2 linked regions of the Homo sapiens genome follow. The protein of the gene in region 1 purifies or fractionates together with the protein of each later gene. This does not show direct contact. Each region holds a gene or a part of one and is shown on either strand. Other genes may lie near its edges.

What was found.
Region 2: the proteins of CROT (region 1) and FBP1 purify together in Homo sapiens (affinity purification with mass spectrometry; one large-scale study listed by BioGRID and IntAct). This does not show direct contact.

The regions. Positions count from the first base shown.
Region 1 is NC_000007.14:87,343,865-87,347,781, reverse strand, and holds the start of CROT (peroxisomal carnitine O-octanoyltransferase), read right to left. Parts: upstream 2,119-3,917; 5' UTR 2,015-2,118; intron 1,443-2,014; 5' UTR 1,352-1,442; intron 1-1,351. UniProt on the Homo sapiens protein: Beta-oxidation of fatty acids. The highest activity concerns the C6 to C10 chain length substrate. Converts the end product of pristanic acid beta oxidation, 4,8-dimethylnonanoyl-CoA, to its corresponding carnitine ester.
Region 2 is NC_000009.12:94,633,002-94,636,818, reverse strand, and holds part of FBP1 (fructose-1,6-bisphosphatase 1), read left to right. Parts: intron 1-3,817. UniProt on the Homo sapiens protein: Catalyzes the hydrolysis of fructose 1,6-bisphosphate to fructose 6-phosphate in the presence of divalent cations, acting as a rate-limiting enzyme in gluconeogenesis. Plays a role in regulating glucose sensing and insulin secretion of pancreatic beta-cells.

The sequences.
Region 1 (3,917 bases):
ATTTATGGAAGTCATATATGCAGGATTGCAGAATCTCCCTACTAGTCCTGGACTCCTACCTCTAGATGTATGGAAAAAAAAAAACTTCTATTTTATTCATACCATTGTATTTTGGGCTTTCTATTGTAGGGAGAAGAGCTTAGCCTGTACCACTAATATAAAGAGATAATTTGAAAATGAGAAATAATAATTAACTCAAAGTTCTTTAGCTTCTTTCTATCTATTGACTTTGGCTGCACACCATTTTGACCATCCATAAAAATGGGTTTGTACCTAATGGAAATGTAGATCTGGATCCAAGTACAGACTCTGCCACTTTCTAGCCATGTGCCCCTAGGGCAACCAACTTTAAGTGAATTTCCTTATCTTAGAGTGGTTAATCATACAATTCAATAAAGTCAGAATTTGTTTTCAATGCCTGTGAAAGCACATTATAAAAACAAAATAATCCTGCCTGAAACCACCATATTGTGGTAGGCACAATTACTATGAATGGCCCCCAAGATTCCACCCCTGCTAATCCCCAGAACCTGCGAATATGGTGAGATCATTACTCCTGTGATTGTGATATTCTCTACAGAACTGACCTTAAAATAGGGATATTATCGAATTGGAACTAATCTAATCACTTGAGTCCATAAGAGCAAAGAGCTTTCTCTGGCCAGTGGCAGACAAGTAAGACTGCTTTAATGCTTGAGAAGGATTTGTGGTGTCTTTGAAGATGCAGATGGCCTTAAAGAACTGAAAGAGGCTCAGGCTGACAAACAGTAAGGATATAGAAATGTCAGTGTGAATTCTACCAACAATCTGAAATAGCCTGGAGGTGGATTCTCCCCTAGAGCCTCCAGAAAAGAATCCAAATCTACAGAAACCTTGGTTTCGGTTTTGTGAAATTCTAAGCCAAGTACTCAGCTAAGCCCACCCAAACTTCACATTTACAGAAGCTATGAGATAATACATTTGTGTTGTTTTAATTGTTGCATTTGTGTAATTGGTTAAGGCAGCAATAGAAGACTAGTACACACATACAGAGAAGATAAGCTATTCTGTTTACCTCTGTGCCACTTAATAGACTCTAGAAAACTGGAAGCAAGAGTATTAGTTACATACCCACTATAGTGCTTAACCCACCAACCGGTACACATTAAAAATATAAATTATTGGATTCTTTCTTGAAGAGTTTTCTTGAATTCTCAACCACAAAGATTAAGTTAAATAAGATGGTTCCAATAGCACTAAGAAAATGATTATGCTAGATTTAATTAGAATTGACTTTCTGGGGGCAATTAGATATGAATTCACAGAAAGTGGAAAAGAACCACGAACAATACGTGAAGGAATTGTCACATACCAGTACACCAAGAAGATGAACTGCTTGAGACTGCCAGGAGCCTGCTGCAACAATTGTTTTGAGATCACAGGGAACTGGACTAAGTCGGTGACTGTGGGAAGAAAGAAACAAGCTTAACAAATATTTAAGAGGGAAAAAGAAATGAACAAGCTAGTGAAAGAAGGTGGAATGCAGACAAACTAGGAGTTGGGAGTTCCCAAGACAAACTTTTCGTGAATCACTGCAAACACACGCAAATAGTCCACCTGCTAGAGAGCAGGAGTAAATGATCATACAATTAAGTAGGTTTCAGACAAGTACACCTTCCATTAGACGGGTTCAAAGGGTAGAGGATACGTTTTCAGTGGCTGGGTAACAGGTTCGTCGCAGAGTGGCAAGGGGTAGAAGCAGGAGCAGAGGGCAATGAGAGCTCGGAGGCTCTTCCCACCAACCCAAGAGCAACTCTGCACTCAAGAGGCCATCAAGTGAGAGAAATCTAAGCACTACAACGGAGCAGCCCCGCGGCCCAACCTTGAGGGTACCCCTGAGACCCCAGCAGGCGAGATGCTTGATGACACTACTCCCCCACCAAATCCAGGCACCTTTGCGGTTCTGCACGACTTAACTTTCCCCCGCCCCCGAGTTGAAGGATTAGGGGAGGGAGGGAATGCTGCTTCAACGGACCTGTCCGTCCTCACCGCCCGCGCCTCGCCGCCTCTGCCGCAGCCTCAGCCTGCAGCAGCACCGGCTCGCTCCCCCTTGGGCCTCAAAGGTGCGGGAATTGGACTGAAGGCCGCTAGGGTCCCGCCCCGCATTCGCCGGGGAACAGGATTGGATAGAAAGCCGCGAGGGTCCCGCCCCTCACTTTCCGGGGAACGGGACTGGACGGACAGCTGCAAGGGTCCCGCCCCGTGCCTGACGTCGGGGGCGAGCCGGGCCTGCGCGGTAGTGGGACCCGACCCTGTCTCCAGTGGGCGTCTTGGGCCCCGGCTCTATTCTGGGCTGCGGGCCTGGGAAGGGCTCGCCGGGTGCCAAATGAGCTGTCCTAACTCTGCGGGGCTGCAGCTTCCTGCATGATGCTGGGGAGCTTGGCGCCTGACCCAGGATCTAGAAGGCACTCTGGGCAGGCCGCGCTCCGCCCACGAAGGTACCCAACCCTCTGGGATAGATGCAGGAAGCGATGGTTAAGACCCATTTTCACCCAACTTCTCGCCGCAGGTCTGGCTTACCACACGCTCCTCCCCATTCCCAGTGAGCCGCTTTTTGCAGCACCAGGCGAACACTTACACCAGTGCTTTGTAAAGGAATCTTATTGTCCACCCCGTGTCTTGGCAAAAGAACAGTGATCACACAGATTCCTACTTGGGCTCTTTCCTTTAATCTTCGGAGGCTGAGTTTGCCCAACTCAGGTATGCCGCAGCACACTACATCATCTCGGGTCTCCTTGCTCTTCTGCAGCTCTTCATTGCTACCCAAGTTATTTGAATACCCCAGGGATGCTTACCCCCGGGCCTATCTGATGTCTTTTACTGTTGTGCCAAGAAATGGAATCTTTAACCAGAGTGGAGCTACCCAAGTTCTAGAAGATCATAATGTGATTGACTTAGTTTCACAGATTAATTCATTTTGCTTTTACCTTCTGAAATAAAATATACTGTTTCATTTTTAATTTTAAATACACTGTTTCATTTTTTTGTGGAAGGAAAGACCAAATGTTTACACTGACTCTGAACTAGTTATCAAAGATAAAGATTTAGATTTCAAATTAACATGTCATGACAGGCCCCATTCCTTTGTCTGTCGTTTCTAACTCCTTTAGCAGTAAAGTTTGACCTGAAGGGAAGTGAGGCTATGTGTAACTGAATGTTCCCTTTGTGTAAATATTCATAAGTTTTCTACAGAAATATTGTGTTTGATTACAGTACAGCTTGCTGGAAGTGTTTCATAATATATGGCAGACGTACTATTCTAAGAAAAGTTCTGAATTTTGAAACATATCTAGCCAAAAAGATTTTAAATAAGGGATTAGGAATTTGTAGTTGTAATTTCTGAAGGTGTGATAAAGAACTTTTTCTTTCATATATAAGTGCGATGCTCTGGATGATGTTAAAGTTTGCTTACAAGATAAAGTTTTTAAATTGAGTAACTAAAAACTACTCAGAAACCTTCGTTGTATTTTTTTTCTCCTTTTTAGTGAGTCTTGGCATCTCTTTAAAAGTTTATGCATGTTTAATGCCTGTTGGTGCATAGAATTTAGAACCATTTCGCTTCACTCTTTTTCCTACTCTTGTTGTTTATTTCAATGGAAACAAGATGTTTCTGTAAAGATTCCTGAATTATCGGATAGACAAAAAGGTGTGGGAGTGAAAAAATGAATGGAACACAGATTTGAGTATGTAGAAAAAAATCTTTTAAAATATGTTATACTGATAAGCATATGTACCCCAAATCACCAAAAACAGGTATTTTAAAATATGTTTGGCTTCAAAATGTGTGATATATATTTTAATGAAAGATTCCAAATTATGTTGCATTCAGGTTAAACTTGAACGAGTTTGCATTTCTTAGAGTGGAGCGGGAGATATTG
Region 2 (3,817 bases), on another chromosome or scaffold:
TACTTGGGAGGCTGAGGCAGGAGAATTGCTTGAACCCGGGAGGCGGAGGTTGCAGTGAGCCCAGATCGTGCCACTCTACTCCAGCCTGGCGACCGAGTAAGACTCTGTCTCAAAAAAAGAAAAAAAAGGGCTTGTCATGTCTGATATTGTTTAAAAAATGTGTCAGTACCTTTCACACCCCTAGAGAGACTGAGAAATGTAAGATGTGTTTTGAGGTGTCCCACTGTCTAAGTAACCTTAGACAGTGGGACCTTGGATAGTGAGATTTTGATGGTGGGGCCTGGATGAAGCATGTTAATTTTGGCTACGTAAGGTATGCGTTTTATTTATTTATTTATTTTGAGATAGAGTCGCACTCTGTTGCCCAGGCTGGAGTGCAGTGGTGTGATAATGGCTCACTGCAGCCTCAACCTCCCAGGCTGAATTGGTGCTCCCACCTCAGCCTCCCCTGTAGCTGGGACTACAGGCATGTGCCACCATGCCGGATAATTTTTGTGTTTTTGTAGAGATGGGGTTTTGTTATGTTGCCCAGGCTGGTCTCAAATTCCTGGGCTCAAGCGATCTGCCCACCTTGGCCTCCCAAAATGCTGGGATTACAGGTATGAGCCACTGTGCCTGGCCAATATGTGTACTTTTATACTAGATAGTTGTGAATACCAGGTTTTAAAGAAATACTATGTTGCACTCATTGACAAAAATTTAAACCATTCAAAAGAATTCAAGGGAAGAGTGAAACCCACCCCATATATATCCCATGGGGTATCCACTGCAAATAATTTACTGCTTATTTTTCCGGATACTCTTTTACAGTCATATAAGTTTACACATGAACACATATTTACATATGCCTATAATAGCAGACAAAATGGGATCACAATACACATTTCTGTAGTTTGCTTTGTTATTTAACATTATTCAAGAAACATCCATTAATATCGGGACATCTACATCTACCTCCTTTTAACTGCTGTGTGCTGCTCCCCTGCACACATCATGAGGTATTGAAGTTTTTCTCTATTTTGGGGCACTTTGGTTTTTACTAGCCTTTGGGTATTACAGTGCTGTACCCTTGGAACTGGTGTGCATGCCTGGTTGTTGGGGTAGCTGACAGGACTAGATGCTGGACACTGAGGTGATCTTGTGGGAAGTTCAGCGTTTGGCCATTTTCAGTATCACATGTCATCAGGCAGGTAGCATGATTCTCAAGCCAGGCCCCCAACCTACATTCATTCCAGGCATTGAAATCCAGAAAGAAAAACCAGCATTCCTGCAAAGATCTTGTTAGTGCTGAAGACCGGACCTAGAAGAGCATGTACCCAGAGGGACGGGGTGATTGCAGATTTGCAGGAACCTCACTGGAGCCAGTTTAGGGAGCTCACCCAGGATCATTATGGAAACATCAGGAGTTTAAGCACAGAGCCTGGTGTAACCTAAAGTTGCTATTGTAGTCACTTTCATTGCTCCTGTTAAAATGTTCATGGAATCATTGAGTTTTAGACTGAAAGAGACTCAACAGTCAGCTAGTCTATCACCTCCTCATACAGAAGAGGACCCTGAGACCGAGGAAGATGAGATGACTTGGCCTGTGGCCGGGATCTCAGGAACCCCGGATTGGAGGTCTTTTGGCCACACTACACATCTCTTCCTTTATTTTTTAGAAATCAATTAGAATTCACCAAACTCTAAATCTCATCTATTAGTTAACTGGTTTTTTTTTTTTTTTTTTTTTTTTGAGACAGGGCCTCACTCTCACTCAGGCTGGTGTGCAGTGGTGCAATCTCAGCTTACTGCAACCTCTGCCTCCCGGGTTCAAGTGATTCTCCTGCCTCAATTTCCCGAGTAGCTGAGATTACAGGCGTACACTACCATACCTGGCTAATTTTTGTATTTTTAGTAGAGATGGGATTTTGCCAAGTTGACCAGGGTCGAACTGGCCTCAAGTGATCCACCTGCCTCGGCCTCCCAAAGTGCTGGGATTAGAAGTGTGAGCCACTGCGCCCGGCCTAATTTTTGTATTTTTAGTAGAGACAGGGTTTAGCCATGTTGGCCAGGCGACATTTTTGATGTGAATTCAGGCTTAGATACCAAGGAGTCATTGCTTTGGGCAAATGTGCCCTGGGAGACTTCCCTCTGGGCTTCTGGCTCCCTCCATCCACTCTTGGGAGAGAAACTGTGCAGATCAGAACAGTCTGCAACTTGAAGTCAAGCTGATGAAGTTGTGGTTCAAATGTCAAATTCGAGTGTTGTCCACTTTGCATTCCTTTGGGAGAAAGTGGTGCTCCAGTGGCTTCAGGTTTTTTGTTTTGTGGAGTTGACTTCCCTTTGTATCCATTTCCAAATCACTGACTGAAGAATTCACTGATTTCATTCAATTAACAAAATATTACTGAACATCCACCATGTACAAAGTTCCAGAAGACGAGAACAACACAGAGTTTACTCTGTAGGAAAAAATATTTGTATCGTTCTAACACGCAATAGAGGTTTTGAAAGATGCTTTCTTTTTCTTTCTTTTTTTTTTTTTTGAGGCAGAGTCTCGCTCTGTTGCCCTTGCTGGAGTGCAGTGGGGCGATCTCAGCTCACTGCAACCTCCGCCTCCCGGGTTCATGCCATTCTCCTGCCTCAGCCTCCCATAGCTGGGATTACAGGCGCCCACCACCAAGCCCAGCTAATTTTTTTGTATTTTCAGTAGAGACGGGGTTTCTCCATGTTGGTCAGGCTGGTCTCAAACTCCTGACCTCAGGTGATCTGCCCGCCCCGGCCTCCCAAAGTCCTGGGATTACAGGCGTGAGCCACTGCGCCCGGTCTGAAAGATGCTTTCGCGGTGGCTCACGCCTGTAATCCTAGCGCTTTGGGAGGCCGAGTCGGGCGGATCACGAGGTCAGGAGATCGAGACCATCCTGGCCAACACGGTGAAACCCCGTCTCTACCAAAAAATACAAAAAAATTAGCCGGGCGTGGTGGCGGGCGCCTGTAATCCCAGCTACTTGGGAGGCTGAGGCAGGAGAATGTTGTGAATCTGGGAGGCGGAGCTTGCAGTGAGCCGAGATCGCGCCACTGCACTCCAGCCTGGGCGACATAGGGAGACTCCGTCTCAAAAAAAAAAGAAAGATGCTTTCATAGAGGTGCCAAAAATACGATTCATGGTGAAGGACTGTGGAGCGCCAAGAATGGGCACGTGCAGGGGAAGCAAAAGGCCCGGCGGCTGGACCGCAGTTCAGGCTGGAGGTCACAGGGGGAGGAGTCCTGAGGTGGGAAAGTGTTTCTGGAAAAGTTGCCCACTCAATTTGACCAAAGCATGGAGTACTCATGGTAGGGCGTTCGTGGATGTGAAATTGTGGGTACATTGGGGAAGCATCAAATGGCAAGGGTGAACACTTTACACTTTTGGGGGTATAGAAAAGGAGAGATCAAGGATTTTGAAAGTTTTTTGAGTGGGGCAGTTGCGTGACTGGAGACAAATCTGGAGAAGGTGTGGCTGGAAGTATATCGGAAGAGCGAAAGATAGGATATGGGAAAACCAGTGGCAAGGGGGAGCCGTCAGTTGAGTAGCCAGCAGAGCTGCAGCCTTGGAGGGGAGAGGAAGGATTTGGAAGAAGTCTGAGCATGGATTAGATGAGAAGGGCTGTGAGGGAGTTTCTGAAATCGCTGGTCCTAGCAATTGAATGCAGAGCCCATGCCACCACAAAACAAAACAACACAAAAACAAAAACAAGGAGGAGCTGGTTTTTAGTCTGGGGAAGGAGGGAAGATGATCCCAACATTTTGGAAACGCTGAACTTGAGATGTTAGAGGGTGATCTGTTGGGAGATGCTGT